Regions from separate parts of the Homo sapiens genome. Here region 1 is linked to region 2. Evidence: fine-mapped expression QTL. A gene starts in region 2. The other region holds a variant in brackets. All regions are shown on one strand. Distances are between the middles of the regions.

Region 1 (5,387 bases), 65 kb after region 2:
CTCCAGAGGCTGAGGTGAGAGGGTCACCTGAGCCCAGGAGGTGGAGGTCACAGTGAGCCAAGATTGTGCCGCTGCACTCCAGCCTGGGTGACAGAGTGAGACCCCACCTCAAAAATACAAATACAAATAAAAATTTTTATCTCCTATTACTTCTCTAAATATCCTCCTCTCTCTTTTCCCTCATTCTAAAACTTGAATTGGGTGCGTTTACACACTCTTATTTTTTCCATATCCATCTGTTCTTGATTCATATCTACCTGGTTTTATTTCCTAATGTCTTTTATGGATGTTAAGAAAACATGGGTGGATGGATGTTTATGGAACCTCTTCTCTTTTTATGGATCTTATTCCTTTTATCCCCCTAAAAGTCTTAAAATTCTTATTTCAAGGTGATTTTGGGGATTAGGCTGTTACTTACATTTTGTCTCGAGTGACAATTGTTAAGTTTGTTGCTGTTTCAAGAGGTCCCTAATCAAAATGCCTTTTATAATCCTGGAACCTCCCAACACTAACAACTATTTTTCTCAGTATTGGTTTAAAAGTGAAATTAAATTGAGTATCACAATTAAGCAAGTTATACCAAGATTGGTGTACATTTCTCAGAAACAAAATTTATGTGTTGCAACAAACAGGACATGAAGTGATTACAAAGTACCTGTGAGAAGTTTCTCTCTATGGAAACATTGTGCCAGCTGGCTGTTTTGTTTAGTTTCAAAGCACGGTAGGACGTGCCTATGGAACCTGCCTCAAGGGAAGCAGTGGAATTAACATAGGTTTTACTACAGCCAATCATTTGTGCATCAAGAGAGATCGGGAAAGACAAAAGAACACTTCCTTTCTTAAAAATAAAATTATAGCTGGGTGGGGTGGCTCATGCCTGTAATCCCAGCACTTTGGGAGGCTAAGGCAGGCAGATTGCTTGAGTCCAGGAGTTCAAGATCATCCTGGCAAAACCACTGCACTTTGGGCAACAGAGCAAGACTCTGTCTCAAAATAAATAAATAAAGTTATGATAAAAACCTTCTATGCTCCTTCCCACCATTACTATCCTACTATTACTAGGACTGGAATCAATGTGGTGATGGCTGAATAGTGTTTTGGAAACAGACTTTAGGGCAACAGAAAAACCATTTGATTGGTTTCTAGGTATCTTGGTTTTCTAAAACTTCAGCCTTGTGGCTTGTATTAAATTAACCAAAATTAGCTCTAACTCAGGAAAAGGTTATCCCTTGGTTTTGTCAACTGTCTGAAATAGCTTGCTTTCCCAGCATTATTTTTATGCATATACTTTCCTATTTTTGTTGGCAGACTTACCTAATGGAAGGTTTTTGTTTCCCTTCTCTGTGCCCAGTCTTCCTGGTCCACCTACAATTTTGTGGTCACCTCCGTCTAGTCCCCAAGTACCCTCTGGGTCAGAATCAGGTTTTATATTAGTAGCTCAGAGCCATCCTGACCTGGTTCTTGGTTCTAAATCCCAAAACCATAGTGTGTTAGCACTGGAAGGCGTCTCGAAGATCATCTAGGCCAAATCAACCATTTCTCAGCAGAAGAAAACTGAGACTTGAGAGGAGGAGCCCTGCTCAAGTCACCTGCCAGGTAGAGTTACCCCCATGGGCACTCCCTGGGGCCTGTTCCCTGCTGCCACATGCCTCTTGACTCAATCTGGCTTCTCGAATCCAACTGAGCCTTCTCCAGCCAGCATCCAATACTTCTTCCTAACTCTTGTTTACTCATTCAATCCCTCACAAATGCCTACTGGGAATACAAATGTGAATAAGAAACACATAGACACAATTACGACTAAGAGGTAAACTGTGGGATTAGCATGACCTGAGTTCAAAGACTAGCTCGACAATTTGTTTCCTGTGTGATCTTGGGCAAGTGAAGAGACTTCTGCTGTTTTCATTAACCTATGTGAAGCAGACTTATTCATGCATTCCTAGGGTTACTGGGACAAGTAAATGGCAGAACAATCATCAAGCACCCAGCTCAGTGTCTGGCTTGCAGTAAGTCTAAAAGAGTGGTTATTATTATTATCATTACAATGTCCTTCCTGCCAGGTTGGATCTCAGAGGGGATGTCAGTCTCTTCTGTCACTTCAGACACTCATCTCTGGGGAGATCTAGTTCAGACTAGTTGACCACTAGCCCAACCTGGTTCTGTCTCCTCTGTCTAAGACTGCAGTTCCCTCTCCACTGCCTTAGCTTTGCTATCTTTAGCTTTGGCTGGAGTCCCTCTACTCTGTGCACCATTCTCTCTGAATGGAAGCTCAGAGACAAGAATTCTTGGGAACTTGTTTCTGATTCAATGCATAATCTTGAATGGCTTGGGAGGGGTAAGGTATTGCCCTTCCCAAGCCTTAATTTTCCCATCTGTATAAAGAGTGTGCTGGGTTGTGTTAAGTCAAGGTGAAGACCCCTCCTAGCACTGACACTCCTGGGCCTCCAGGAAATGCCATGCTTTCTCCATCCCCCCAGCCCCAGTAGAGGTGAACCCTTAGCCAGCTCCCACCTCCAAGCAGGTTTCTTTGGGAAGGGCAGGGGTTTCTTTCTTAGATGGGGCCATTCTGGCTGTCCCGATTCCACTCTGAGGCCTTATTTCTCTGTCAGGGCTTCTTTATCTGAGGTCCTTAGATCCCTTCTGGGATCCATAAATCCCAGGAAATGATATGCCACTGTCATGTGCATTTTTCAGAGGTGTGAGTTCATCAGCTTCTCAAAATGGCTTAGATCCCAAAAAGATTAAGACCCATTGCTGGAAGTCTAGTTCATGCCTCTATCACTTAAATTCTGATTTCCTTGTCTGTTGGATGCTCCTCTGATGTTCCCCAACCTTCTCCTTTTTTCTACATTACATCTACCTGTTAATCTGTATCTTCCTGCACTGGACTGAGAGCCCTTTGAGAGTAGGGACTGTATCAATCTTTTTCACCTCTGTATTCATAGCAAAATAACACA[T/C]ACCCAGTACTCAATAACTAGGGATGCTAGCTCTATGAATGTAGGAACCTTTGTGTTTGGTTCATATCTTTGTCTTAGATGCAAGGCATAGGACCTGACACATAGTCAGTGCTCAATAAACATCAGATGCAGAAAATAACTTGTGGAATGAACAAGTGAATGCATTCAGAAAGAAGCCACTTCACTCTCCAACTTTGCCCATCCCTGGGGCCCCTAAACCGTGTCTGGACATTTATGGTTTTCTTTGTTCTTAATTAGAAAAGGTCCTTTAAAAATGCGAACTTATACCAAGCTGGGATAAAGGCACTGGCATATCACCCCCAGTCTGGGGTCAGGCAACTGGGTTGGTGGCCAGATGCCCTCATGGTAGTGTTGGCCACAGTGAAAAAAAAACTCTGCTAAGCTGGATGACAAAGAAAAAGATTGGGAAATTAGGAAAAATAAGGAAAGATCAGATCATTCAAATCCTCCCTGATAATCAATGGGTGACAGATGACAGATGGGACTGCAACATCTCCTACACAGATGACAACTGTGTGGTCCAACCATTCCCCAGCTGGGGTTTTCCCACCTAAACCATTCCTGACTTGTACTTGTTAAATGTCCCCCCGCCCCCAATGATTTCCCAGAATAAAATTCTATGTAGGCTGGTAAGAGGGTGCTTCTCCTCAGTGATGAAATCCCTACAGAGGGGAGCTTGAGGTCTCAGGGAAGATGAGACCTGGAATCTGAGGCAAAGGCAGAAAAGGTTTGTGTTAAAAGATAGGGAAATAGACTGATAATGGGAGAGCTTGAATGACTTCCACCAACAGTCACCCCAGAAATGATTTTTATCAGAGACATACCGGGGCATTTCTGGCAATCTCTCAAGGGCTTAGAGGAAGGCATCCCATTTATCAAATTGCTAATGAAGGAAGCTGCAATCTGTCATGAGGAATTGAAGTTTGGAGCTCTGACAAGACCTTGAAAAAAAGAACATTGGAGATTAAGTGTCTGTCAACCAGAGCTGAACACTATCCACAAGAGAGGCCTGGGACCAGAGGGGGATTCTCTAAACTATTAAACCTTAAAGCATGAATCATTTTTAGTTCTATCATACATATAATTTACATTTAATAAAATGCACAGGTTTCAAATGTACTAGTTGATGTGTTTTAATAAATGTATACACACATGTAACCACTGCCCCAGCAAGATACAGAATATTTCCATCACTCCGGAATATTTTCTTTGTGTTCCTTTATAATCAACTTTGCTACCCGCTAGGGAATAAATCCCTGCCCTAGGCAGCCACTGATCTGCTTTCTTTCACTATTGATTAGTTTTGCGTGTTCTAGAATGTCAGATATATGGAATTATATTGTATGTAATCTTTTGTCTAGTTTTTTTGGTTAAACATAATGTTTTTGAGATTCATCCACGTTGTTGCCTGTGTTGACAACCTGTTCCTTTTTATTGCTAAGTAATATTCCATTATATGAATATCCACAATCTTTTTATCCATTCTTCTATTGACAGGCATTTGGATTTTTTCTAGTTTGGGGCTATTATGAATAGAGCATTTTTAAATATTCTTTTCAAATCTTTATATGGACATATGCTTTCATTTTTCTTGAGTAAATGCCTAGGAGTAAAATTGCAAGTCATAGGGTAGATGTATATTTAACTTCATCATAAACTACCAAAATTTTCCAAAGTGGTTGTACCATTTTGAATTTCCAGCAGCAATGCATATGAATTCTAGTTGCTTCACATCCTCACCATCACTTAATATTGTCAGTCCATTTTGTCTTAGCCACTTTAGTGGATACAAAGTAATATCTCATTGTGGATTACATTTGCATTTTCTGGTAATTAACAATGTTAAGCATCTTTTCATGTGCCGATAATGACCATTCATGTATCTTCTTTTGTGAAATAGCTATTTAAGTCTTTGGCCCTTTTTTGTTTTTTGTCTTCGTGTGACTGAGTCATAGGTGCTCTTTATATATCTATATTCTGTTAATATACACATATCCTTTGCACAATGTAATCATCCGTTGTCAGGTACATGTATTGTGAATATTTTCTCCAAGTCCTAGTGACTGACTTTCATTTGCTTAATAGTTTTTTTTTTGAAGTGCAGAAGTTTTAAATCTAAAAATCAATGGCAGCCTGAAAAAATAACAGCTCCTGAGGCCATCCAACTGGCTGTCTGCCCCAGGTACAAAAAGAAGATAAGACTCTGTCGTCAGAGTGAGCTGAGGTCCAATTCCACATGCTATCTCTCATTTAACTCTCACAGTAAATTTTATGAATTAGTTAGTTTTATGGTCTCGTTATACAAATAAGAAAACTGAGGTGTAGGGATGTGTTCCTATGTCACAGTCTAAGAGATATTTCAGACTTGAGGAAAAAGTAAGAGTTTCTGTGGCCACTTCCATGGTCAAA
Region 2 (5,387 bases):
GTTTTGGAGGGTATAATCTCTGGGGAGTCCTACTCTACCAGGTTTTTCTGCCCATTCCCCAAAAATAACTATATTTGAATCTTTTCTAAGTTGTAAAGTGATTTCCCATAGAATTGAGCAAAATACATTTAAGTCCTCCTGTTTTCTTCTTTTCCTATGAGTATAAAACTTTCAGATTTTTGTGCCAATTTAGTGCACTTTAATATTTTTGCATTTTTTATTTGTCCAACAGGACAAATCATTTGATCACTTAATCTTTTCCCCCATCATAATTCCATATCTAAGATGTATGCATCACCATACCATTTTTATGCTTTCCAAATCACTGATTTCTGATTTCAACTTTATCAATACATTCCTTTATCATTTGGAAATGTTTTTTTCCACATTTCATTGAATTCAATTCTAATATGAATATAGTAATCACATGTTTTGCTTGGATTGCATTTTCCTGGTTTGTTTTTGCAAATATTGTGCCCTTTTGTTTTATCTGCATCTTTTGGACACTAGATGAGATGAAAGTTTTGTTCTTGATCCATAAGTAAGATTAATATTTCAGACTCTATTTTGTATCAGTAAGTTTGGAACAGAACAGTTTCTGGTATTTTCTTAAGGGAAGTGTGAGGAAGATTACAGTGGTTAGCAGACACAGTAATCAATTTTAGTTCAGAACAATATCACCTTACTCTGTTGGGGTTTCTGCAATAAGGAACTACTTACTGCCTTTGAGGCAAACAGATAAATTTGGTAAGATCTCAGAGTGGCTCATAGAGAAACCATGCAGCTCACATGATTTATGTTTGATAGCATAGCACTTTTTTTCTGTGGTTGGCCTTTCTCTTTTCCCCTTCCATAGAGCATTGCCTACAGGAAGGTTAAGATTCTAAGACAGAATAATTGAAAATAAGTTTTCAAGCTATCCTTTCCCCAGCACTACCCTCCAAGGTGTTCTGAATGTACACAGGGACACTGTTGGGATGCTTTCTTCTTCTCCTGTGGTCTGCTCATAACGAAGTCTTTATGACTCAAAGTAAAGAAAGTTTCTTCAGACTTTTCAGGATGTCATCACAATTGGAAAAATCTATGCTTCTACCAAAGGTGGGAATTTTAGCTTCATGTCCACTCACAATACATTATTCAATTCATTGATGGTGGCAAATATTTCTCACAGCCTGTTTGGGGATTCAGCTGTTTACTACTGAAGTAGAAACTTCTCTTAATTAAAAAGAAAATTCTGCTGTTTAGGTAGATTTCATGAAAAGAACCCAATCTAGAAACCAGCATTTTTACTTTTTTTCCAACAGTTGTTCCTATCACCATGAAAGCATATTAAAATTCTTTCATCCTTTGAAAACACATCTGGAACTTACCTCACCCTCCAGATACAGCCTCAGCTCTCACTCCACCATGAATTCAGACTTCCTGAGAAGGTTGCAGCTGGTCTCCATCCTTCAACTGACAACCCAATGCAATTGTATTCATCTCTCATTAAAGTTACTAGCAACAACTAAGAAAAACTTTGGATACATGTCAGTCTTTATTGTGTTGAACTTGACAGACATATTTGACATTGGAGTGCCCCATTTACTTGTTTAAAATTTCTTTCTTTGGATTCCATAACGTTTCATTATCTTCTATATCATTGGACTTCTATGATTGCTCATTCTTAGGTAAAATAGAACGTGTCTCAAGATCATTTTTAAAACAAAAGGAAGTATGGAGTTCTATCTAAAATAGAGTATTTAAATTATTGCATCATGAAGGGAAACTCACATTTAGAATATAAAGGCATTCTCAGAAACCAATTGCTTTTGTAGCCTGAAGCCAGTCTCTTTCCTACTTTTGTCTATAATTCTGTAAAATTAAAGTGATCTGGCATGATGATCTAAAAGGACTGATAAAAATTTGCTGGGGCTGCCAGAAGAAAGAAAATGCCTTTGACATTATGTTGCTGGGGACATTGACTTTGTCCCACACTCAGCAGGGGTGAGGAAGTTGGCATTTACTGATAAGCTAAGAAAAGTCAGTGCCTTTTGTAATTTAAGCTCCACCCATGGCACACTCACTCAAGGAAGATATAAATGACAAGGTCGGCTCAGCTCTCAGACAAGGTTTTCCAAGCAAGATGAAGCCCAACATCATCTTTGTACTTTCCCTGCTCCTCATCTTGGAGAAGCAAGCAGCTGTGATGGGACAAAAAGGTGAGTGGAGAGGGTAAGCCTTGGGGAAAGCTGCTCAGACAGCTAATAATCTAAGATTATTTGGGGTGCAAACAGTAACCTGTTTAGGCACAGATTCTTCTCTTTGAAGAGAATTGATTTTCTCCACCCAAAGCTTCAGCTTTTCTAGAAATATCAATAATTTGTTGGGGGAAAAGTGGGGGGTAAGAGTTGTAAGGGAGCTTTGGAGATAATGAATGCATACCTTCTTATTATCAATTACCAGGTGGATCAAAAGGCCGATTACCAAGTGAATTTTCCCAATTTCCACACGGACAAAAGGGCCAGCACTATTCTGGACAAAAAGGCAAGCAACAAACTGAATCCAAAGGCAGTTTTTCTATTCAATACACATATCATGTAGATGCCAATGATCATGACCAGTCCCGAAAAAGTCAGCAATATGATTTGAATGCCCTACATAAGACGACAAAATCACAACGACATCTAGGTGGAAGTCAACAACTGCTCCATAATAAACAAGAAGGCAGAGACCATGATAAATCAAAAGGTCATTTTCACAGGGTAGTTATACACCATAAAGGAGGCAAAGCTCATCGTGGGACACAAAATCCTTCTCAAGATCAGGGGAATAGCCCATCTGGAAAGGGAATATCCAGTCAATATTCAAACACAGAAGAAAGGCTGTGGGTTCATGGACTAAGTAAAGAACAAACTTCCGTCTCTGGTGCACAAAAAGGTAGAAAACAAGGCGGATCCCAAAGCAGTTATGTTCTCCAAACTGAAGAGCTAGTAGCTAACAAACAACAACGTGAGACTAAAAATTCTCATCAAAATAAAGGGCATTACCAAAATGTGGTTGAAGTGAGAGAGGAACATTCAAGTAAAGTACAAACCTCACTCTGTCCTGCGCACCAAGACAAACTCCAACATGGATCCAAAGACATTTTTTCTACCCAAGATGAGCTCCTAGTATATAACAAGAATCAACACCAGACAAAAAATCTCAATCAAGATCAACAGCATGGCCGAAAGGCAAATAAAATATCATACCAATCTTCAAGTACAGAAGAAAGACGACTCCACTATGGAGAAAATGGTGTGCAGAAAGATGTATCCCAAAGCAGTATTTATAGCCAAACTGAAGAGAAAGCACAGGGCAAGTCTCAAAAACAGATAACAATTCCCAGTCAAGAGCAAGAGCATAGCCAAAAGGCAAATAAAATATCATACCAATCTTCAAGTACGGAAGAAAGACGACTCCACTATGGAGAAAATGGTGTGCAGAAAGATGTATCCCAACGCAGTATTTATAGCCAAACTGAAAAGCTAGTAGCAGGCAAGTCTCAAATCCAGGCACCAAATCCTAAGCAAGAGCCATGGCATGGTGAAAATGCAAAAGGAGAGTCTGGCCAATCTACAAATAGAGAACAAGACCTACTCAGTCATGAACAAAAAGGCAGACACCAACATGGATCTCATGGGGGATTGGATATTGTAATTATAGAGCAGGAAGATGACAGTGATCGTCATTTGGCACAACATCTTAACAACGACCGAAACCCATTATTTACATAAACCTACCATTCGGTAACCATGTGAAAGGATGGACCAATATCAAGGTAATTTTTTTTTAGCAAATAGGGGAGATATCTCTCTCATTGTTTAGAATTGTTGGGGACTCTCCAGGACTTTTGTGGGATTGATAACCATTGTTCGCACCAATAGAAGTGCTGTATAACAAGTGGTAGGAAGATGAGCCTCCCCATTCCCTGGTGAGGAGAGGGTCTGGTAGTGGCACAGAAGGATGTTTGGCCTATCATGAGGTCCTAGAATTCCTATCCTTAATTGAATATTCTTCAATAATATTTTTTTGTATATGCCTACCTGCTAAAGGTTTTTTTGAACAGGTACTGACTACATATGCATATTTATAAGTTTATGGTATACTCTTGTCAGTTCTTATACTTTAGATTAGTAAACCTCAGTTTCTTTCCTATATAGTATAAAGGATTACAGCCATTAATGTTTTCTTTCTGCACACCAGTGAATGTTCTTGCATCCCTGTTAGGGTTCATCTATGCTCCTTCAGAGACCACAAGCCCAAAGACTATCAGTCCTCCCTCTCAGAATACAGGAAAGAGATATGTAGAAAGATCCTTGTTCATGTTGTGAAAGAGAAGATGGAAAGGGAGACACAAGAGATGGTGAGGGATCTCATGGGCCAATTGGGTGTTTACAACATCAGGAGAAGAAAACTGAAGCCCTGAGAGGGGTAATGGTGCTTCCCTGCCTCTTTGCAGTAAGTAACACTGCACTTGAAGAGAGGGCAAGCAGTAGAAACAGTGGCCCCAGCTGGCAACTAGTGGCCTGGTATCCTAGTAGTAGAGGGCTGGTACAGTTGGAGCTGAAGGGGACAGGGGGCCCAGCTACCATCCCCACCCTTCACTTTTTACTATACTCACATCACTGATTCTCTTCTTTCTCTCTAGGTGTCAGTTGACCTCAGTGAATTCTGTGATGTTTCTGAGATGCAGACTCCCGTGTAGTTTCAGATTCTTGGTCCATGGATGACACCACCTGCCCATGCTTCCTTGAATTAGGCTTTCCTAACCTGAAGCGCCTTCAAACTTCCAATAAAGAGATCATTTTCTGCTTCATCTGCTTTTGACTCCTGTTTTCTCTGGATTCCTAGTGGCTCAAGGGGTTGAGGGCATTTCTAATGTAAGTGGTTTTGAAAGAAAATAAAGGGATATTTTTGAAGCACTAGGGAGAATAGTAATCAAAGCCACATTTCAAGATATATTGATAGAAACCAACACTAAAAATAGGGTGCTGTTAGTCTACCAGTCACATGTCTACCACCTGAGGCCAACACTAAAGGCTTTCATGACCCTGGTACTAATAAGACCCCAGGAACTAAAAATATCCCAGAAAGACAAGAGAAAATGTATTGCAACAGGCCCTGGGAAAGTCCCTGATCTGCTGGTGATCAATTCCACAGTAGCACATCCCTTCAATTAGCTTAAGAATGTCTTACGCCTACAGTATCCATTGAGATGCAATTACACCAAAGGTGATATGTTAAATCTGCACAACTTCAGTAACAGCAAGTGGGTTAAAATGTCACCTGTGGATGGAAAGACCAGATGACCAGTCAAAGGAATCTTGAGGCAGGTGGTGTCTTCATAATGGAAATACTGCTGC

What was found. PIP is the estimated chance that this variant, and not a neighbour inherited with it, causes the effect.
Region 1: its variant is the best candidate, but not a certain one, in a credible set for the expression of SEMG1 in whole blood (TOPMed, PIP 0.86).

Annotation. Positions count from the first base shown.
Region 1 is chr20:45,270,371-45,275,757 of GRCh38, forward strand. All of the region lies in intron 2 of LOC105372630 (a long non-coding RNA gene), which reads left to right. Among named protein-coding and RNA genes, the nearest start is that of SLPI, 18 kb to the left of the region's middle. The variant T/C (reference allele first, on the strand shown) is at 2,958.
Region 2 is chr20:45,204,929-45,210,315 of GRCh38, forward strand. It overlaps SEMG1 (semenogelin 1), which reads left to right and starts at 2,105. Exons shown (of 3, transcript NM_003007.5): 1 at 2,105-2,201; 2 at 2,446-3,802; 3 at 4,673-4,840. The coding sequence starts at 2,126. The coding sequence ends at 3,758.